Regions from separate parts of the Homo sapiens genome. Here region 1 is linked to region 2. The links come from fine-mapping of genetic effects on plasma protein levels. Region 2 holds a variant in brackets. A gene starts in the other region. All regions are shown on their reverse strands.

The links. A credible set is the group of variants that fine-mapping cannot tell apart. PIP is the chance, under the fine-mapping model, that this variant and not a neighbour inherited with it causes the effect. Protein levels are from antibody-based Olink assays in UK Biobank. Linkage for the fine-mapping came from a reference panel and not from the study's own genotypes, which makes the PIPs less certain.
Region 1: it holds the start of OGN, and the variant in region 2 is the best candidate, but not a certain one, in a credible set for the plasma level of the OGN protein (UK Biobank, PIP 0.54).

Annotation. Positions count from the first base shown.
Region 1 is chr9:92,401,359-92,409,358 of GRCh38, reverse strand. OGN (osteoglycin) reads left to right here and starts at 4,781. Exons shown (of 7, transcript NM_014057.5): 1 at 4,781-4,863; 2 at 5,877-6,125. The coding sequence starts at 5,952. All of the region lies in intron 5 of CENPP (centromere protein P), which reads right to left.
Region 2 is chr11:32,898,915-32,915,280 of GRCh38, reverse strand. The region is part of intron 1 of QSER1 (glutamine and serine rich 1); the gene reads right to left. Among named protein-coding and RNA genes, the nearest start is that of QSER1, 14 kb to the right of the region's middle. RefSeq lists an enhancer at 15,498-15,687. The variant C/A (reference allele first, on the strand shown) is at 9,049.

The DNA of each region.
Region 1 (8,000 bases), not on the chromosome of region 2:
AGGATGGCTAGACCTAAAACCCTGGTTTCCTGATTCTAAATCCATTTCTTCTACATCTTGGAAATAAAGCATAAGAGCAGCTGGAAACAAAATTAAATCATAATGGCTACACATCTGAAGTTTCTTATATGTTCCAATTTCCTAAATTGATATAACTATTCCAAGTTATAAATCTGCCTAGGTGTAAATATCATAACATCATGGACACATCTTGCATCACTTTACTTGTTTAGGTTATGAATTCACTATACAGAGATTTATGTACTACTGAGAAAAACTAAATTAACAAATAAAATACAATTTTACCATGAGCTCTTCCTTACATTGAGTCATAATTCTCTCCATATAAATTTTACCCTTTAGTCTGGGAAGTAAAATACATGGGTTCTCATATTTCTTGTTTGAACAAACAATTAGGCTTCAAGCATAAGTATGAGATTTAAGACGGAGATCCAAACCACAGACTTTCCACAAAATCCAGAATGCTGGATTAAAAAGGGTCTATGTGTATCTAGTAACTCAGCAGTTATCAATACGAATGATTTTGCTTCCCCAACCCCCACCCATCAGTGGACAGCTGGCAATGTCTGGAGACATTTTTGGTCATCACAAAGTAGGGGTGGGGGTGGGGTGCAACTACTAGCATCTAGTGGGTAGAAGGCAGAGGTGCTGCTAAACATCCTAAAGTGCACACAGGACAGCCCCCACAACAGAGAATTATCAGGTCCAAAATGTCAGTAGTGCAGAGGCTGAGGAACTCTGTAGTAACCCGATTCAATCGATAAAAGTTCAATCGATAAAAAAACTGTGGCCCAAAACGTTAAAGAACTTGCCAAGGTCAGGGGAAGGTTCATGAAGAATCAAAACTAGAACTCAGCTGGGTGCAATGGCTCACACCTGTAATCCCAGTACTTTGGGAGGCCGAGGCGGGCAAATCACGAGATCAAGAGATCGAGACCATCCTGGCTAACATGGTGAAACCCTGTCTCTACTGACAACATAAAAATTAGCTGGGCGTGGTGGCGCATGCCTGTAGTCCCAGCTACTCAGGAGGCTGAGGCAGAAGAATTGCTTAAACCCGGGAGGCGGAGGTTGCAGTGAGCTGAGATCGCACCACTGCACTCCAGCCTGGAGACAGAGCAAGACTCCGTCTCAAAAACAAACAAACAAACAAAAACTAGAACTCAGGTGTTTTGACTCCTAAACCAAACTATTTCCTACAAAGTTAGAGAATGAAGATGAAGATGGGGGAAAGACTCTTCTGGTTTGTAGCATTCATTGAAAGCTAATCCACTTGGAGGTCATATGGTCTCTATCAGAATTAAGCCACTCCCCAAAAATACTTTTTCCCTGGAAGCTCTTGTTTCCAAAATTCCATTCCATTCAACACATTTTTTTGGTTGCCAACAGACAAATGGTACACTTTTGAGGAAATAAAACCCCTATAAGGCACCAAAGATAATACAATAGGGTCACCTAAAAGAACTCCACAGAGGCCAAGGTGGATCACTTTAGGTCAAAAGTTCGAGACCAGCCTGGGTAACATAAGAGGACCCCGTCTCTACAATTCTTTTAATTTTTTTAATTAGCCAGGCATGGTGGTGCATGCCTGTAGTCCCAGCTACTCAGAAGGTTGAAGTGGGAGGATCATTTGGGCCCACAAAGTTGAGGCTGCAGAGAGTCATGATCGTGCCACTGCACTCCAGCTTGGGTGACAGAGCAAGACCTTGCCTTCATAAAAAGAATTCCACAAAGAAGACTCTTTCATCTTTGGATACAATGCCTGCTCTTGAGCATGAGACAGCTTTCATCTTTTACTCCTGTAGAGTAAAAGCTAAATAGCTTTCTATCAGCATTCAATTCTTTCTGGAATAGAAAATCACCTCAGTTTCAAGCATTTTATATTGAGTACTGTGTAGTAAAGATTTTGGCTTTGCCTAAAGAGAGGTCTGGGCTTTGCCTTGGCTTCTGAGAGGTGATCTATGTTATTTCTGATAGGAGTGTTTTTGTTTAGGGTGAGATCAGCCACACCTGATAGTCTTGAGGTAGAGGTGGCTATGCCAGGAAGACCAACCACGTGATGTAGGATAAGGGATTTGGGTTATGTAGTATCAGTGGACCAGGAGGCTGAATTCAATCAATCAATCAATCAAACCTATTAATAAAGCCCCAATAAAAACTCTGAACACTGAGAATAAGCTTGCCTGGTTGGCAATACCCCACATACACTGCCACATATCAACGTAAGGCAATGCATCCAGAGAACAATGGAAGTTTCAAGTCTGGAGCCTTCTAGACACTGCCCCTACGCATCTCCCCCTTTGGCTGATTTTAGGGTGTATCCTTTTTCTATATAAACCATAATCATGAGTATAATGGTCTTCAGTGAGTTCTGAGAGTTCTTCTAGGGAATTATCAAATGTAATAAGAGTGGTTCTAGGAATCTCCTGAAATTGCTGTTGGTATCAGAAGTGCGGGTAATACCCATCTTGCCAGAAGACTATTTCCTCCTCTAGCTGTGAAGAAGCAGGCTGCAATGTTGTGAGCTGCCCTTTTGAGGAAGTCACATGGCAAGGAACTGAGGGAGGCCGTCAGTCAACAGCTAGCAAGAAACTTACGTCCACAGTTTCACATTCTGCAAGGAACTGAATGCTGTCAACAACCACATGGGCTTAGAACTGGATCATTCCCTACTCAACCCCTGAAGTGAGGCTGCAGTGCCAGATGCACTTCAAATGCAGATCCTGAAGCAGACCATCAAGCAAAGACACGCCAAATTCCTGACCCACAGAAACTGTGAGATAATAAATGTGTGTTATTTTAACTAAGCCATTCCTTTGTGGTAGTTTTTTACACAGTAATAGATAACCACTACAATAGATGAACAGTGGTATTCTTCAGCAATGCAACATTAGAGGAATGTTTCTAAAATGCAAACAGGATCATATTTAAGCCATCACTGGCTTAAAAATCTCTACATGGTCTCTCACTGACTACAGACTAAAGCCCAAATACTTTAGCAGGATATAAAATACTTTCTTTAATCCAACCTCTATTCCCCCTGTCTAGTCGCATCTCTTAATATGGTCCATCCCCCTGACTTCTTCTCTCTCTCCCTCCAAGCTCCAGCAGTATGCAAAACAAATTATAAATTTTCTGAATGATCTACCCCCATCCCCTCCCTAAGGGGAGCACGTGATGATCCCCTTGCCTAGAATACCTCATCACCTGCGCTTACCCTCCTCTCCTATCCTCTCTATAGAAGTCAGTTTGGGTGCAGTCTCCTTGACTCCCAGTCAGTTTGTGGCTTCTCCCAGGTTATCACAGAACTCTGCATATTTCTGTGTAGCAAGCCCTACCATGGATTCTAGTTGCTTGTTTGCTGCTTTTCCTGCTGACTTAGAGGCTATAAATCTTCCTTGAGGGAAGAAACTGAAGTTTGCTTATCTGAGCTTACGTGTCTGAAGTCCTGGCACAGAATTGGCGCTCAATAAACTTTTATTAAATGAGTGAATGCTAATAACATTGTATTCACTGGTCATAACTTTTCAAGGAAAGTTGTTCTTCACAAAATAATTTTCTGTAGTACAAAGCATCAAAGTGTACCATTAATGAAACTATGAATCTCTAAGATTCTCTAAATTTGGACATATGGTATCTATCCAGCTTACTTCTCAATATCTTGTTAACTTGCCACACAATACAAAACAAATCAATGTCTGTTGTTTCATTATTATATATTTCAAAGTATTTAAAAAAGTTTTACTGTATCCTTGAAGCCATAAAACCAACAATTTATATCAACTCAAGCCAGACAATATCACAATTAAATTTAAGATAATTCACATTCAAATAAAAACTTCAGTGCTCAAGTCTTAGTTTATTTAAGCTTTGATTTGAAAGGTTCTAAAACAATTTTGTCTAGAAAAGAAAACAAATTGTTATTCTTTCATTTTCTATTTTAATAAAATATATATCCATATTTGTTAAATTTTTAGCTTAAAGGAGAAAAGTTAATTTGATTGGTAAAAGCACCAAGGAGGAATTTTTTAAAAGTGACTCTTTAAAAAAATCTTCAAAGTTGCTTGTATGGTATCTACAATGCCACTTTAATTTTTAAAAGCCAATTTCAATATTAAAGTAATTTTATAAAGTTTCCTTCATTCAGCAAACAAAAGTATCTTTTACTATCAACCTCAAAAACTATAAATCAAATTTACTTTTAAAAAGCTAATTTTTATGCATCAGTTTTTCTTATATGTAACTAAAATAAAGGGGAGAAAAAATCCAAATGACAAAACTATCAAATAATTTGTGCTAAAACTAATTTTTACACTGGAAAAATATATTACACTGGCTATATATTAATTATGGTATTAGGGCAATATTTTTAATCCTCATAAAATTAACAACATGGACTATGTTGTCATTTGGTGTCCTATTTCATTCAAAAAGCAGATTGTTTGATCTCCTGGGAAATCACCAAAATGAAAAGGATGACTTTAAAACTATATCATTTTTCATAAACTAATATTCACCAAAACATGAATGTTTATTACACAATAATAAAATCACACAAGTTTATAGTCAAATTAGTTGAAGCAGACTGAGTGCAGCAGTTACAACAAATAACTTAAGCACAGTTCTCTAGTACAACACACTGCATTTCACCCTAGAGAAAGAATGCTGGCAAAGATCTCTACCACATGGAAACTGTTCTTAAAGCTGCTGGGCCCTGAAATTTTACTCAGCAGTTTGAAATCAAGACATAGCTTTTCTCATTCACCCTCCCACTTGGGGCTAATGCACAGACATGAACATCTATTGAGGAAAACCACAAAAAACTTCAAAACAGCTACAACGGTAGGCTTACTTTTCATATATTATTTTAAATATTGTTTGTTAAAGTGCGACTGACTCATCTAATAGTCTTAATAAATGTAAAGGCCATCTCTGGTTTAAGTTTCAGTTACCTCAATTAATTTTTAAGAAGTACTTATGTATATCATCGCATAAATTTAACATCCACGCAGGCAAGAATAGGGTGCTGCAGAAGTCACAAATCCATTATCTTCTTCATTTTCAACCTCTGGATTTTTGACAAACTGGCATCTATAATGCAGCATCAGCAACTCTTGAGTGATTCTGTTTGAAGTTACTTAAGAAAAAGTCTGAAATGTGTACCCACCAGAGAAAATCCATTGATGAGCCTAAAGGAATCCTTTCTATTACATTCCTCAAAGTTCTTTGATTAAAGTTCGGTATTTCCTCTAGCCTGCAATACTATTCTTTCAGTTTTCTTAGCTTAAATTAAAAATACAATACTATTAACTAAAAATTATGATCACCTATTAAAATTACAAAACTAAGAAAATTAAAAACGTATGGCTTTTCCTATATTCTGTACCACCTAAAGGTGTTAATGACTACTTTTCATAATGTTAAATTTAAGTTTTAAAACTTTTCTTGGAACTTGTTTCTGTTCATACCAATATAAATCAAGAGTTCTTATAAAGTAGCTAAGTGGAAATATGATATTTTTAACTCACATGAGACAGGATCTTGGGACTTTATTTTAACTATTTATACTACAGGTATCCTAAGAATATTTCAATTAAATATTAGTATGTCTGCTGAAGGCACTTAATTATTAAGAAACTTAAAATTATCAATCTTTCTTGAATTTCTGATAGAGAAGTAAAACTATTTTCCAAAACTATTTTTCAGAATGTTCACTGATACATAAAAACTGCTAGCATCTAATTAAAGATCACTAAGGGTTAAATACTGTTCTCTGGCCCTTACTGCGCACACCCTGCCAAAACATCCTCTAAGCTTTTAAATATTGCTTCGATGGTCTGAATTTTTATTTCCAGGGAAAAAGAGAGTTTTGTCCCACAGTCAGCAGGCCACTAGTTTATTAACTTCCAGTCACCTTGATTTTTGCTAAAATGAAGACTCTGCAGTCTACACTTCTCCTGTTACTGCTTGTGCCTCTGATAAAGCCAGCACCACCAACCCAGCAGGACTCACGCATTATCTATGATTATGGAACAGATAATTTTGAAGAATCCATATTTAGCCAAGATTATGAGGATAAATACCTGGATGGAAAAAATATTAAGGTACTTTATTTCTATTCTAAATTTAGCTTCTAAAATACTGCCCATTTAAATGCATGTTTTTGCTTTTCCTGAATGTGTCTGATAAGGTAAGGGGAAGGGAAAATCACTTTAAATGATTCAAACGAATTCATAATAATTGTCCCTAAGATTGTATTTTTAGAGTATGTATGCTTTCCAAATTAATAAATGGTATCTATGGTAACCAAACAGTATCTATAGTAACCAAAAAATAAAACTTAAAGAAAACTAGACTTTAAGATGATCCCTCACCAGTTGCAATTTATATATTAAGTAATGTTACACAATGCCCTATACTTGCAATGTTGTGTTGCCTCAAAAATAAATTAGCGGAAATGTGTATTTGGAGAAATAAAGATGAATTATCAGCTTAAGGTTATTATTATAGAAAACAATTTGAAGAAAATACATAGAAGAGTACTGGTTATTTTGATATCAATAGCATTCCACAATAATTTATATATGCCATCTACATACAGTACCAAAAACTGAAAACCTAGTCAATATAGGACTTTCTTTTTAAATCAATTTTAACAGTTTAGACCCTCTATCAATTGGTACCAAGTAACTGTAACTGTCTTTGAGTTAACACTGCAAGGGTGACGTTATACCACATCATTCATTCCCCACCTTTATGGGCAAACTAATTACTTGTGGTTTTCTTGGCACACAGAAATGAATGCTGGGTAAGGAAAAAGTTAATACAGCACTTAAGTATCTGTTGCCCACTATGTATGACACATACACATACACACTGGAAAATGAGAAATTCAGCCAAATATATAACAATACTGATTGTTTCAGAAGTTCTTCTCCACTATAAATTGGAGGATAAAGACTTATAAGATTGACCAGTTATAATTGCTACTTTCTCTTTTCTTTTTTGCAGGGGTACACAATGAGCAAATGTTAACACCACAGTTTCTTTCTTTCAGTTAATGCTTTTAATATGATAGCATTATTTTTGCCCATCACTAAGACACAAAGGATAGGTATTACTAATTATAGCTTCAAGTTAAAGAAAAAAAAGTCCCATCATAACATAGGCTATTGGCTCACTTGGATGATTTGAATCTATTAAGATTCCCTGATCCCTAAAGAGTTTAGAGATTATTTTTCTCTCTGCTTCTTCTCTTTACAGGGCTTTAGAAGTTTCTCTATCTTAATATAAATGCAGGGTCTAAGATATTTGTGGAGTGGAGTAGAATTCAACAGGACTTGATGTGCAAACACAGAGTAGAGGGAGGAAGTTCAACCACCACACAGATGGGAGAATGAAGGTGAAGGGCAGAGTCAGGAGTCAAGACCGAGACTAAAATGGAACATGCTTACAAAGGACAGAAAGAATAGGACACCACATAATACACTGTAATCTAATGGCAGAAAACGTACTCTCCAAGAACAGGAAAGACAGGATCTAAATTGTATCTACTCCAATTTCCCCAGAATTAATGGCCTACCCCAGTGGCCCAAGCAGGGTAGGTAAGGTAAGCTGGAATAAAAGGGATCCAAGAGCCAGGGCTTAATGGAGGGATATAGGTAATTAAAGGGTCACCCCAAGAAGAGACCTAAAGACCTTAATTGGTAGTTTATACTTGTGACATGGCTGGAGCTCTAGTCTTACTCAAAATGGTAGAATCTGAATGAGAAACTCAGTTCAGACAAGACCCCTGAGGAACAGTTTCACCTCAGAAAAACTTTCATTCCAATTCAGGGAATTCTCACCTAGCTTTCATTTGGAATTTCAGGATGTTCAACATTTATTAAGCACTGAGTGTAGCTACTGGCGATATAAAAATAAAAACACCCAGTTCTTTTACTCAAGGAGCTCATAGTCTAGAATAAAAACAAGCTAAA
Region 2 (16,366 bases):
GGGAAGTATCATCTTCTTTCCGTCACTGTCACATTTTAAAAAAAAATTATAATTTTCTCAAATAACCAAAACAGGCCAGGTGCAGTGGCTCACACCCATAATCCCAGCACTTTGGGAGGCCAAGGCTGGAGGATTGTTTGAGTCCAGTAATTCAAGATCAGCCTGGGCAACACAGTGAGACTCTCTACAAAAAATAATTAGCTGGGCATAGTGGCACCTGTAGTCCAAGCTACTCAGGGGGGCTAAGGTGGGAGGATGGCTTGAGCCCAGCAGGTCAAGGCTACAGTGAGCCATGATCAGGCCGCTACACTTCAGCTTGGGGAACAGAGCAAGACTGTCTCAAAACAAAAAACAACAACAACAAAAATTGAAACAAACCAACAAAGATTAGTTATCAGATTACCACTCTCTACACTGTTTAAGTGTGACCATTTTTTAGTCAACTTCACTATAACAAAGAAAATTAATTTCTAAAGCAGATATAGCTGAGGCAAAAAATTCATCTAAAATGTCCACTCATGCAGTGAAGATGGTATATGACTGTAAGATAAAATGCTTTTAAATATATGCTCTTATGGTTTATACCCAGATATTAATAACATATAAACCTACTCCTTGGGTAGCCTACTCTTATGTTTATGATGCTTAAGAAATAAAACACATTCCAGGTTTAAAAATCAATTAGCAAATGTTTCACGAAATATGTTAAATCTGAGAAAACAAGCCAGTACTTGCACACAAGTAATAAGTTACTTAAGCACTGAATAAATGATTTTGCCTTAAGTAGTCATATCACTTTGTTCTTTTTGTGTTAAATAATTTGGTCACAAATACCTAGAATATAATAAAAATAGAATTCTCTTTAAGCTTTGAAAATATTGTTACAGTTTTAGGTATATCAGCTTTTCATAGTTGAGAAAGATAAACATTCTGGATTGGAAGTTAGGAGCCCCAAATTCCAGTCCTGATTCTGCAAATAAATGCTACAAGACTTTGAGCAAAGTACATAATCTTGTAGAATACTTGTTTTCCTACTTATAAAGCCTAATGTTCTTTGTAGTTCTAATATTCTCAGTTAAGATAAATATTTTTACTTTATTTAGCACACAGTATTCTTTGGTATAAAATCCGAATAGAAATAAACACTAAGTCCACTGAATTAAATCTGTGTGGAACTCTAGCATATACCTATCCCATTCATACCTAAATGCCAAATATTTTAAAATCTTTGTTTTAGCTAATCCAGTTTGATAATTTAAAAGCAAAAACATGTAGCCTAAGAATAATCAGCTCTTATTAAGAAATTATTTATCATGAATTTGAAAAAATAAACGAGGGAACTTTGAAACAACTGTGTAACAGCTGTATAAAAGCATAGCTCTGCAAACAGGCCACAGGATTCAAATCCAGTTCTATATAAATTCTGTGACTTAGAGGCTAGCCACACAGACAATTAGTTAGACTTAACCAAGTCTCCGTTTCCTCAACAGTAAAATATGGGTAATAGTAACACCTACCTTCATCAGGTTGTTGTGAGAGTAAACAATAAAGCACATACGGTCAGCAGCAACTAGCACAGTCCAGCAACTGGCGCATAATGAATGCTGAATCAATGCTACTATTGTTGCACCTAAAGGTAAGTTCTGCATTTATACAACTGACATTTACTGACTGCCAAGTGTTATGCTAGGAACTAGAGAAATAAAAGAGCATAAGTAAATAAACATAACACAATCTGGGAAGACTTCCTCTAGGACATGACAACTGAGTATTAAAAGGACGAGGAAAGACCGGGTGCGGTAGCTCGCACCTGTAATCCCAGCACTTTGGGAGGCCAAGGTGGGCGGATCATGAGGTCAAGAGATCGAGACCATCCTGGCTAACACGATGAAACCTCGTCTCTACTAAAATAAATACAAAAAATTAGCTGGGCATGGTGGCGCGCACCTGTAGTCCCAGCTACTCGGGAGGCTGAGGCAGGAGAATGGCATGAACCCAGGAGGCAGAGCTTGCAGTGAGCCGAGATCGCGCCACGGCACTCCAGCCTGGGCGACAAAGCAAGACTCCATCTTAAAAAAAAAAAAAAAAAAAAAAAAAAAAAGGAAGAGGAGAAATTATCCAGGGAAAGCAAAAGAAAAGAAGGTTCCAAGAAGATAAAAATCACATATATGAAGACCTAGAAATATCCCTAAGATGGCACATTAGAACTGTAGTAATTCAGCATGGTTGTATTGGAGAACAGGGATATGAGGTAGACAGGAACCAAACTATGGAATATTATATACCAAAATAAGGATCTCACATTTTATCTTCAAGGGAATCAAGAGCCTCTCAAGAATTTTAGTAAGAGTTAAATTTATACTTTTTTGAGACAGGGACTTGCTCTGTTGCCCAGGCTGGAGTGCAGTGGTGTGATCATAACTCACCCTAGGTGTGACCTTCCAGGCTCAAGCAATCCTCCCACATCAGCCTTCTGAGTAGCTGGGACCAAAGACGTGCGACACCATGTCTGGCCAGTTTTTTAAATATCTTTTTATAGAGACAAGGTCTCCCTATATTGCCCAGGCTGGTCTTGAACTCCTGGACTCAAGCGATTCTTCCACCTCCACCTCCTAATGTGCTGGGATTAAAGGCGTGAGCCACTTTGCCTGGCCTAAAGAATGGTCTGTAACCAGGCGATGCTCATCAGCATCGCCTGGTTAGTTTTTTCAAACTATATACATCCAGATCTCCCTTTCAGAAATTATTGATTAGTAGTTCTGACATGTGACATGGGACCCTATAAGTTCACTTTGAAAAGTTCAAAAGAATCATTATCTTAGATAATCTGATAAATACTGTGCAGAACAGAACAAACCTTAAAGAGAGAAGGCCAAGATCCTACTGCAGAAATCCAGGTAAGAAATTATGAGGGCAAAACAGTGGCAATAGCTAGATACTTAGGAATTCTTAAAAAATACAATTGAGAAGACTTGCGGGGAAGACAGGAATCATGAATGACAGTGAGCCACCCATAAGGCTGAACAAACATGGACGGTTTCAATTTTGAAAGCACTGAGTTTGAGGTGTTAAAGAGACATGTTGTGAGAAATAATTGAAAGAGGGCTAATGAATATTCCTACTTAGGACTCAGAAGAGAAATCTGAGCTGGAAATAAAAAATTGGGGATCGTTACAAATTGAGTGTTTTTTGAAGTCATGGAAGTAAATGAAAATGTCCAAGAGTGAGTCACATCAGAAGTGGGCTAAGGGCAGAAATTATAGAGACACTGCTTTACACATATGACCAAAATACATTAATTTCCTGCTTCTCAAGGATGTTACTTATCTGCAAATCAAAATTCCTTGCAACTCAACTGAAGTACCACTCTTCCCTCTTCCACTTAAGATATCACAGAAATAAATGAGTAACAATACTATTATAGGGTGTATTAGTCCATTTTCACACTGCTATAAAGAATGATGTGAAACTAGGTAACTTAAAAAGAAAAGAGGTTTAATCGACTTACAGTTCAGCATGGCTGGAGAGGCCTCAGGAAACTTACAATCATGGCAGAAGGTGAAGGGGAAGCAAGGCATGTCTTCACAAGGTGGCAGGAGAGACAGCAAGTGCAAGGGAAACTGCCACTTTTAAATTGTCAGATCTCACGAGAACTCCTTTACTATCGTGAGAACAGCATGGTGGAAACCACCCCCATGAGCCAGTTACCTTCCACATCAAGGTCTCCCTTGACATGTGGGGATTACAATTTGAGATAAGATATGGGTGGGGACACAGAGCCAAACCATATCATAGGGATCAACTCTATCTTATTTAAAGACAATGAGTAATCATTCATAACTTGGTACTTTTTTATTTTTTTATTTCTTCTAAAAAATAATGGGATACATGTGCAGAACATACAGGTTTGTTACACAGGTATACATATGCCATGGTGGTTTGCTGCACCTACTGACCCATACTCTTAAGTTCCTTCCCGTCTTCCCCCACCACCCCCAGGAGGCCCTGGTGTGTGTTGTTCCCCTCTCTGTGTCCATGTCATAACTTGGTACTTTTAAAATCAATTACCTGAGATGCAGATTTAAGGGAAAGGTAGAGGAAGAGGAAACCATAAGGAAGAATAAGAAAGTTTAACTAAAAACTTAAGAGGAAAACCAGGAATGTCTCCAAAAATCAAAGGAACTGTAAGTTTCAAGAAAGGAGGACTAACTGCTGCAGTAAGATTAGACAGCTAGAGAAACCGTTTGAGGAGACAGTAATAATAAATCAAGCACAGCTATAACACACATATTACATATACATTACCTATACAATTATTACATTGTACTATCTCCTCCCACAACCCCTCGCGCTACAAAGTTCTGTGGACCAGAAGGCTAGGACCAAAACAGAAAAAGCCAACTGGAACAATAAAGTAGTTATAACAGTGGCATGAGGGAGGTAGGAAAAGGTATGGAACAGGAAGAAGAAAGTGCTTGTAAATCCTAATTTATGGCCTAGATCTAAAATGTCCATTTTGATTTTTACTCTATTTACCTTTGATCTTAAAGTTTTTGTTTAAAAATTCTCATTATATTGGCAGTGTAGCTGCAGAACATTTCTAAGGTATCCATTTCAACATGCTCAACATTATTTTCAAGGGAAAATTTCAACTTAAGTCTCTATGTCTTTACTGAGTATATGCATGCAAAAGGTAGGAGTGAAAGGCATACACAATGACAAAGTTCCTGCCATCATGACCTATTGTTAACTATGGGGTATTAAACCGCATACAAGTGTCTAGCCAATTCTACAAAATAGAATAAAACAAATATATGGCAGAGCAGGGTAAATTAATTTATTCAACAAATATTAGATATTATGTACCAGGCAATGAGCAAGGCACTGGGGATATAATAAAAGGATAAGTCTTTGAAGAGCTTACAGTTTAGTTGTGAGACAGGGTGGTAAATAAAAGGAAACCAACTAATAAAACAATTATAAACTCTATCAAATGAATAAAGAAGAAAAAAGTCTAAATATAGAGATTATGGGAGAAAGAGGACACAGTAATCAGCAATGCCTCCTGAAGAAGGGATCTTAAGCAAGCCCTGCCCCAAACCAAAGGAAGAGAAAGAACAGTTAGGAAAAGGCCTGAAGTGGGAAGAGTCTGGAACATAGAGAAGCTGAAAGAAGACCAGCATATTGTGAGTGTACTAAGGGAAGTGGGTGAGCAGTAGGAGATCGTGGAAAGGTAGTAGTTAACGGTCAGACATGGAAAACCTTGTGGGCACAATGAGTCTGGATTTCATTCCAACTGCAATGGAAAACCAAAGGATTTTTAAGCATGGGAGTGTCTAAATTACATTTTTTTAAACATAGCTACCTGCTACACAACTTCCCTTAGTTTCCGAACTAAAATCGATACCAAGGGAATCCTAAAATCAAAATACACCTTATAATGTCATGACCACACCCCCCCCATACACACGACTCCCAAGTAGCTCCAAGTTTCATGAGAAATTGCTTTTAAAATAAATGTTAAAGGATCTAGAGTTTAGGACAGGCGCAGTGGCTCACGCCTGTAATCCCAACACTTTGGGAGGCCAAGGTGGGTGGATCACCTGAGGTCAGGAGTTTGAGACCAGCCTGACCAATGTGGCAAAACCTCGTCTCTACTAAAAATACAAAAAAACTGGCCAGGCATGGTGGTGTGCGCCTGTAGTCCCAGCTACTTGGGAGGCTGAGGCAGGAGAATTGCTTGAACCCAGAAGGCGGAGGTTGCAGTGAGCCAAGATCGTGCTACTGCACTCCAGCCTGGGCCACAAGAAGGAAACTCTGACTCAAAAAAAAAAAAAATGATCTAGAGTTTAATGAACTTGGCTACCAACTGCTGAATAATCTCACGTCATCTTTTAGTTTAAAAAAAAATCAGTGAAAATATCAAATCGATAAAGCTGTTGATGATAAAAGATACTTCCCTTCCTTGAACCCAATTTTAGAGAAAATAGAGGTAGAAGAGGCAGATGAGTCAAACATGCTAAACTTTTCAAGAAATGAATGAGCAATAATAAAAAAGACAATCACAAGTGTGGCACAGACATGGGGAAATTGGAACATCCATATATTTCTTTTCATTTTTTGAGATGGAGTCTTGCCCTGTTGCCCGGCTGGAGTGCAGTGGCGCGATCTCAGCTCACTTCAACCTCCGCCTCCTGGGTTCAAGCGATTCCCCTGCCTCAGCTTCCCAAGTAGTTGGGACCATAGGCGTGTACCACCACGCCCAGCTAATTTTTATATTTTTAGTAGAGATGAGGTTTCGCTCTGTTGGCCAGGTTGGTCTTGAACTTCTGACCTCACGAGATCTGCCCGTCTCAAACTCCCAAAGTGCTGGGATTACAGGCGTGAATCACTGTGCCTGGCCCATATATTTCTGATAGGAATACAAAATGGTACAACCACTTTAGGGGAGAAAAATTTGGCAATTCCTCAAAATGTTAAACATAAATTTGCAACAGTTCCACTCCCAGATACTTACACCGGAAACATGTTCATACAAAGTGTTACATGCAAATGTCCATAGCAGCATTATTTGCAATAACCAAAAAGTGGAAACAACCCAAATGTCCATCAAAAGAGTTCGGATAAACAAAATGTGCTATGTCTATGCAATGAAATATTATTCGGCCATATACATCATTAATGATCTTTACCAAAAATCCTATTTTGTACAAATGATACACTCAAGTTGGTTAAACAGAAGATGTTTGTTTTCACTAAGAAAGGTCAAATTAGTAGTATGGAATTTCCTATCTAGTGGGGTGGCAGAGTATATTAAAAAACCAATATATCAGTTCCAAAGAGTATTCACAACAAAAAGAGACAGATGTTGGCATTTGTAACTGATGCCCAAGAAAAATACTGCCAAAGTCAAGGCAGCTAAGAATTTCTGTCTGCTGTTTCACAGGGAAATAATGAAATGTGATGGTGATATGGCATATGCTTGGCTACATCCATGATAACAAGAGCCACCAAGGCCTGGATTGGACAACTCCAAAATTGCATTTCATCATCTTCTTTTTCTATTTGTCATCATTTGCATTATCAATCTTTCTTCTGGACAAAGACAAGATTTTTTGGTCCCAAGTTTTCCCCTTATTTCCAATATTTCAGTATTTTTTTTGTAATGCTTTCCTTTTCTTTTGAGAAAGTGTCTCATTCTGTTGCCCAGGCTGGAGAAGAGAGGTGATCATGGCTCACTGCAGCCTTGACTTCCTGGGCTCAAATGATTCTCCTGCCTCAGCCACCTGAGTAGCTGAGACTCCAGATGCATGCCACCATGCTCAGCTAATTATGTATTTTTTGTAGAGACGAGGGTCTCCCTATGTTGCCCAAGCTGGTCTCATACTACTGGGCTCAAGGGATCTGTGCCTGCCTTGGCCTCCCAAAGTGCTGGGACTACAGGCATGAGCCACCGTGCCCAGCCTATGCTTTTCTTTTAAAAGAAATACATCCATCAAAGCAAATTATTTTGTGTTTGCATGTACTAACTACCTGTAAATACCAGGCATGTTTATTTAGGAGACAGACAAAAGTGGTTATATGGGCCCTGGATGGTTATCTCTTATTTTGGCTACAAAGGAATGAATAAAAATGAACTAACATATAGCTGGTTACTTCTCAACATGTAACACAGTTCATATTTCCATGATTCAAATGTATGGGTGCTACGAAATGTTTTTTTCAGCTTTTTCAATGTATCCTTTTGTTTGTGGCTTAGTCTTTCATTTACCAAATTAAATTTTCTCCCTTGTTTGAGAAAACCGTAGAGTCAATTTTTCACTACAACACAATTTTATGTATTATTATTAACATAGTCTATTATTTCTGGCATTAGATAAAGGAAATCTGTCCAAAAATACATTTATCACAATTCACATCTGAATATGAACTAGAATTACAAATGTTTTCATATCTTTGGTTTAATACAAGAATTTAATAACATTTTAGGGTAGAAAAGAATATGTTCAGATGAATCAAAATCCAAAATTGTATTACTCATTTTATACTCAATGTGCTGTTCTTTCCTTACAAACTTTTAGAAAAGTCATCTGAAATCATCTAGAAGCTTAAAAAGTTTGATGCTTCTGTTTTCCTAAGGAAATGTCCACAAATTTGTAAGCCAAAGACTTATAATAAAACCAGTAGTATTTTATCCTGTTGTAACGGTACTATACTACTTATACTATTTTAATTGTACTATACTATTAGAAGATTGACTTCAAGTACTAAAACCAATGAAATATGTATAGGTTGCCTTAAAATATCCTACCTATTGTAGTTATATCAAAAAAATTTAAGTCTTTATCTTTCAGAGTTCTCTTTCATACTATGGTTGAAAGAGATACATAGCCTGAAATTTGCTTTGAAATGATACATGGGAGTTGGGAGAGAATGTAGGGATATGCATGAAAGAAGACTGACCATGTGCTAAAATTGTTGAAGGTGGGTAATGGATACTCAGGGGTTCATTATACTTTTCTCTCTAAATTTGTTTGGTTTGAAATTTTCTGTACAAGTGTTGTTGTTGGCCAGGCGCAGTGGCTCATGTTGATAATCCCAGCACTTTGGGAGGGTCAGGCAGGAGGGTCACTTGAGCCCAGAAGTTTGAGACCACCCTGAGAAAATAGCAAGACCCCATCTCTACAATGAACAAAAACAAAAATATACCCGAATTTAGCCAGGCATGGTGGCACATACCTGTAGTCCTAGCTACCTGGGAGGCTGAGGTGGGAGGATCACTTGAGCCCAGAAGCTTCAGGTTACAGAGAGCCACTGTACTCTAGCCTGGATGACAGAGTAAGACCCTGTCTCTTAAAAAACGGAGTTTTGCTCTTGTTGCCCTGGCTGGAGTGCAGTGGCGCCGATCTCGGCTCACTGCAACCTCTGCCTCCTAGGTTCAAGCGATTCTCCTGCCTCAGCCTCCCAAGTAGCTGGGATTACAGGCATGCACCACCACACCTGGCTAATTTTGTATTTTCAGTAAAGACAGGGTTTCACCATATTAAT[C/A]AGGCTGGTCTTGAACACCTGACCTCAAGTGATCCACCCGCCTCAGCCTCCCAAAGTGCTGGGATTACAGGTGTGAGCCACCATGCCCAGCCCAAATTTTTTTAACTTAAAAAAAAAAAAAAAAAAAACTAAAAAATAGTCTTTTTTATAGTAGAGAAAATCAACTTTAAGGTGGCTAATTCTTGTTCTGCATTATTAATTCACAACAAAGGCTAATGTAAAGGAAGAAATTATAATGAATTTTAGAGGAGTATATATTTTGAAACAAGTTACACACCAAAAAAAATTATAACATATTAATCAAATGTCATAACACACAAGTTTACTATCTTTTAAATTTTCCCTAATAAGCATATCTGTTAAGAGCAAATAGTAGACATACTGTGAAATATGCTTGATATCTATGAAGATGGTGCTAACATGACCTTCTTAAAAGGCAGCCCAGTAGATCAAGATTAATTAGCTGGTATACTAGATTAGCTTTTAAAAGCAAGTTTGGAACTTTCAACTCCTATGCCTTATTAAAACACAACTTACGAGTCTTAGAAACAATTCTAATCATTACCATGTTAGAGGATCAGATTTGAGTCAAAAACTTGCTGTTTAAAAAAAAGTAATACAAAGGTATTAACAAATAGCAAAAGACCATCTCTAAGTTTTGGGTTTCTTGAGGAGTTGGAGTTTCTGGCATAGGCACAGTTCTACTTAATTCCCATCCTTCCGAAGGGTTCACACTTTTACTTTGACATCATTCCACCAGTCCCTTGTGGCTCTGGCCAAATCAAACTCTGACTTGAAGTAGTTTAATGTCTAAAGTTTTAGTGAGAATAGTACCAGCTGCTTTACCAGAGTAATGTTCATCTTGCAGTTTTGCTCAACCTGAGAAATGTTTTAAAACGTTAAGCCATCTAATTTAAGCAGATCCAAGCAAAAGTATTTTAGCTTATCCACATATTTGTGTTTGCTTCACTGGGTCAGACAAATCTGGTCTCAAGTTACTTAAACAGGATCAGTGATCACACAGTAATGAGAATGATGGCATTAGGCCATATGAAAATTTCATTATTTTATGTTTAGTTACACCCCATAAATGCCTACATGCCTAGCAACATAGGACAAGCTACACGGTCAGGATCCCTAAAGAGTTGTTAACTTACAGAGGCCAAATTTAAACTCTGAAATATTAGACAAGTAAAAGTAGAATATCCCCCATTAAACATATTCTTTATTAAATCAGTATTCATTGAACAGTTATTATATGCCAGGCAAGTGGGGGAAAACACAGCTGAAGTTCTACTGTCAAAAAACACCCAAGCTAAAGGACAGAGACTACAATAAACAAGAACAGAGAAGTATTTATATCAAGGATTGATAAATGTTATGAAGAAACCTTAAGCAGGGTTGATGGTGATGGGGGTGCATACCATTCTTTTGAGGGTACTAGCAGAGGCCACTGATCAACATGAGGAAGTCACGCAGATTATCTCAGGGAAAAGTGGTCCTGGCACAGGAAAAAGCACAAAGACCCTAGATAAGAGCATTCCTAACACCATTTTAGGAACAGTGAAAAAACTGTGTTTCACTCAAAGGTAAAAGAGAAGATGGTTCTGCAAAAAAAAAAAAAAAAAAAAGAGTGGATATGCTGAAACCAGGCCCACATCCTCTCATTTACCTCTTCATATTATACAGCATCCATACACATATTCATATTCACGGCTAGCACATTAAGAAATGCTTACTACTGGCTGGGCGCAGTGGCTCACACCTGTAATCCCAGCACTTTGAGAGGCCAAGGTGGGTGGATCACAAGGTCAGGAGTTAGAGGCCAGCCTGGCCAGCATGGTGAAACCTCGTCTCTACTAAAAATACAAAAATCAGCTGAATGGGGTGGCGCATGCCTTAATCCCAGCTACTCAGGAGGCCAAGGCAGGAGAATCGCTTGAACCTGGGAGTTGGAGGTTGCAGTGAGCTGAGATTGCACCACTGCACTCCAGCCTGGGTGACATAGCAAGACTCTGTTCCCCTACAAAAAAAAAAAAAAAAGAAAAAGAAATGCTTACTATTGCCTTGACTGCAGAAAGGCCTAGACTGGAAAGCCCTGGCTAGACTGGCCTGAGTCAATGTAAGGAAACTGTGTTAGTAGCAGCCTAGTAACAAAGTCACCCAGCATGTAGCCGAAATTAAAACACCAGAAGCAGCAATAGGGATAAACATTAAACAAAGAAATAAGATTTCCTGTAAGCAAGTTAACCCAAGGAACAGATAAGTTTTTTACAAAACTTGTAGTCTCATTTGAATTAGGGGCAAAAGAAACTTACTGGGGCTGGGTGTGGTGGTTCATGCCTGTAATCCCAGCACTATGGGAGGCCAAGGCGGGTGGATCACTTGAGGTCAGGAGTTCCAGACCAGCCTGCCCAACACAGTGAAACACTATCTCTACTAAAAATACAAAAATTAGCTGGGCGTGGTGGTGGGCATCTGTAATCTCGGCTACTTGGGAGGCTGAGCCAGGAGAATTGCTTGATCCCAGGGGTGGAGGCTGCAGTTGCAGCAAGCTGAGATCGCGCCACTGTACTCCAGCCTGGGCGACAGAGCAAGACTGTCTCACAAACAAACAAACAAACAAACAAACAAATAAAAAACTTACTGAAGCACCCTGTTTCCCAAGGTAACATTTTTTCTTCTCATTTCAAAAGTTAGCACTTCCAAGTCATTGTTCAATCATTTCAATGAGCCTGCCCAGTCCACTTTGTTTGTAAATCTGCAACGCCTCCTCCATCCACATCCCATTCTGCCTAATTCTGCTTTTCTTTTTCTGGTATCACCTCCCAACATACTAGATAATGTACAGTTATGTTCATTTTCTAATTAGCTGTCTCAACCCATTCACCTCAGGATCTTGGTTTTGTTCTCTCATGTATCCCAAGCCCCCAGAATAGTGTCTAGAATATGAGAGGTGCTTCAGTTAAAATCTCTGAACTACCCATACCCTACGGCAACCATTCAGTCTGGTATAAGCCCATGTCCCCAAGTTTTCTGCAAAAACTTTTGGCAAAAGTATGCTCTGGGAAAATGATTCTAATTTTTTAAATAATGGAAAATATAACCTCCCAGCATAAATGTTAAATCCCAAAGACCCAACATCCTTCTTCAAAGTATTCTATCATTAAACCTCTTTCTGACTTCATTTGCCAATTCTATTTAATCCTATACCCTCAACTTCCCAAAAGGATTTTTCCCTGAAAGCTTATGATTAATAGCACGGTCTCTGAAGTTACACCTCCTGGGTTCAAATCCTGCCTCTGCCACTTACTAGCAACGATATTGGACAAATTAATAAATCTCTCTTTGCTTGAGTTTCCTTGTCTATATAACGGGCTAACAATAGTACCTACATTCTAGAATTATTATGAGAAGTTAAATGAGATAACACTATAAAATTATTAGGCCAGTGCTCAGCACATAGTAGGCATGTAATAGACACTATCACCTACAATGGCAAAGGCTCAGTTCTCAGCCCTTCATTCTTCACCCTCAAAGACCTTAATCTCTGAGATTCCACTATTGTCTCTATACACATGTCCAGTCAGACTCCTAAACTCACCTGTCTGGTCTTGTCAGCTAAGGAAAAATACTTTGGGGAAAACAGAAGCGTTGGAACAAAGGAAACCTGGTGGGACTTTAGATCTGGTGCTCAAGGAAGTTCTTTGCGAAGAGATGATATTTAAGGAGATAAGAATGTCAAGAAGCCAACACTGACAAGATCCAGGTCAGTGGTTCTCAAAATCTCCTCACTGGACAAGCAGCATAAGAATCACCTACAAACTTGTTAGAAATGCAAATTCTTGAGCTCCACCCAAGACCTATGGATTCAGAAACTCTGGAGTTGGGCCCAGCAACCTGTGTTTCAACAAGCCCTCTGGGTGGTTCTGAAGTACCACTGAGCTACAGCAAGATCCTGCCAGGGAAGGGAACTGCCAGGCTTGTTCCTGCCTTGCGACATTTGCACTTGCTGCTTCCTCAGATCTCAGGGAAGTGCACTTCCTCTAGGAGAAAATTTTCTCAATAATTTGCCTGCCCGACTCCTTCACCCAAGAATGTAAACTCCACAAGAACAGAGATTTTATGTGGATTTTTTTGTTGTGTTTTTGAGACAGGTCTCACTCCCTATGCCCACACTGGAGTGCAGTGGCACAATCATGGCTGACTGCAGCCTCCACCTCCCAGGCTCAAGCGATCCTCCCACCTCAGCCTTCTAAGTAGCTGGGACCACAGGCGCATGCCACCATGCCAGGCTAATTTTTGTATTTTTGTGGAGACGGGGTTTCACCATGTTGCCCAGGCTGGTCTCAAACTCCTGAGCTCAAGCCATCAGCCCATCTCAGCATCCCAAAGTGCTGGGATTATGGGCACAAGCCACCACGCCTGGCCATTCCCTATCCTTTAGAGTGGAGAGACTAAACTCCATGATCTGTCATCAGAAGCCCTCTAAAATCTAGTACCAACGCTCTGTGGTACAGTGTTACTCTGGTGAGCTCCCCAATGAACCACACCTTTGTGTAGTTTCCCTCCCATGACAATTCTGCAATGGACCAGGGACTGCTTTGACCAACAGACTGGCAGAAGTGATGCTGTGCCAGTTCAAGGCCCAGCCCTTAACTGGCCTAGCAGATTCCATTTCCTCCCTCTTAGAACACTTATTCTTAGGAGCTCCTTCTTTGTACTAATCCCTTATTCCACTATGCAACATTAGCAATAATTCAGATCAGTTTGTATGCAATCTACTTGACAAATGCTACCATGATCCCCTTGAACTCAATATAATTTTCCCCACTAAGTCCCTGAATTATTTTTGTACCTCTGGAATAGTCTGGCAAGTATTAATAGCAGTTATTTCATTCATTCATTGAATGTTTAATGGCACAATGCATCAGACATTTTTCTCAGTGCTGACAATAAAGTTAATAATCTATATGCTATCCTATATGCTAGACATCACTCTAAATACTTTTCTAAGTTTTTCCATTTAATCTTCAAGAATTCTAAGTGTCCTCATTTTACATAAGGAAACTGAGGCACAGAGAGGTTAAGAAACTTGTCTAAGATCATACTGCAAGTGGTGGAGTCAAAATACAAACTCAAACATTATAACTCCAGAGCTTATGCTATCAACTACTATACTAACCTGCCTTGTACAGATGTGAACAAGACAAAGAGCCCTGTTCTCATGGAACATGCATTCTATCAGTGATGGTTAGTGGTATCGGGAAAGGGTGGTAATAAACGATACATATAAATCAACAAAATTACTCCAGAGAGTGAGAATGCTCTGAAGAGGTAAAACTGTCATGTGTCAGTGATGTGCAGTTACTTTAGACAGGGCAGTCAGAGAAGGCCTTTCTGAGAAGGTAACATGTGGGGAAAGACCTAACAATCAGCAAAAGCAGAAGCAGCAAAGCAAAGACCTGCAAAGAAAACTTCAGTTAAAGAGAATAGCCGGTGCAAAAGTCCTAAGACACAAATAATCTTAGCATGTTTCAGGAACAGAAGTAAAGCCAGTATGGCTGAAGGATGGTGGTGGGAGGGGAATGACATGAGGTTGGAGAAATTAGCTGAGGCTTAGATCATGCAGGGCTTTGTAGGCCACGATAAGTCATTCGATTTTTTTTTTTTTAAGATGGAGTCTTGCTCTGTCACCTAGGCTGGAGTGCAGTGGTGTGATCTCAGCTCACTGCAGTCTCCGCCTCCTGAGTTCCAGCTATTCTCCTGCCTCAGCCTCCCGAGTAGCTGGGACTACAGGCACCTGCCACCATGCCCAGCTGATTTTTGTATTTTTAGTAGAGACAGGGTTTTGCCATGTTGGCCAGGCTGGTTTTGAACTCCTGGCCTCAAGTGATCCTGCCTCAGTCTCCCAAAGTGCTGGGATTACAGGTATGAGTCACCACACCTGACCAAGTCATTGGATTTTACTGATTAACACTGGAAGGTTCTAAGCAGGGTAATGACATTACCTGACCTATACTTTTGAAAAGTTAATTCTGGCTGTTGCATACTTAATAAATTACAGAAGGCCTAAAAGGAGGCAAGAAAAGCAACAGGAGGCAACTGCAATTATCCATGCAGGAAATTATGGATATGGAGATTGAACCAACAGGATTTGCTGAGGGACTCAATATGGGAAGGAATGAAATGAATCATGGATGGCTCTAACCTTCTGGACATAAGCAATGGAGTAAATGGTGATAATAATTACTGAGGTGGGGAAGGCTAGAGGAGGCCCAGGTTGAGAGGGTGACAATCATGTTTTGGATATGTCATTTTGGAAATACCTATTCAATATTCAAATGAAGATGTCAGATGCTAGATATGAATCCAGAGATGTAAATTTGAAAGTCATCTCACATATATGGCAACTACACCTAGGGTCAGTGGAGAGAAAAGAAAAAAGGACAGAACTCCAAGTTTCTGAGCACTTCAACATTTAGAAGCCAAGCAGAGAGGAAGCAAGTGCATTACCCTCTCACCCTCCAGATCACAAGTTCTTTCAGAGGCAAGACAGTGTTTTTTTTTTCATTTTTGTGGCACCCTGCAGAACTCAGCTGAGAAACAGAAACTGAGAGATGGCCACTACATTTTAATGAGTGATTGCATGCTTGTCACTTGATTTCTCAAGCTTTCACTGCAGAAATATAACTCAAGGAGATACAGGTAACACTGCCTTAACAATTGCAGGTACTCAAATATTTGTTTAATGAATAAAAGAAAACTGTGTTTTGGTAGACATACTTTAGTACTCATTGTTCCAGAGAACATACCAAGGAAAGGAAGAAACAAGTAGTAGCCCATATCCCCACCCTGCTAACCAAAGATAATCACAAACTTACCCTTCATCTTGGTCCCAACTACAGGGTAGAGGGGGAATGGCATTAGAGGCTGCAACAGGAAGAAAGGGGCTTCCAATTCCCACACTGAAGCAGAGTTCTGGCTTTCATGATATAAGTATGTATTAAGCACCAACTATATGCCATGGATTAAAGTAAATACTAAGTACTACAAATATAACAGCAAAACACATAGGGGTTCTTCAAATAACCTCCATTCTGAAGAAGATACGTATTACATAAACAATACATAGGTATATATTTCTAAGAATATGAAAGTAAAATAAAATATTCTGTGAAAACATATACCATTGCACAAAGCAACAAGGAGTGAGGGTTGAAAATACTGCAGGTTTCTCACATGAGATACCTTAACAAGTCAGTCTGGGAGGTGGGGATAGGGTGAGAGTTATCTAAGTGAAGGTAAGACGATGTAT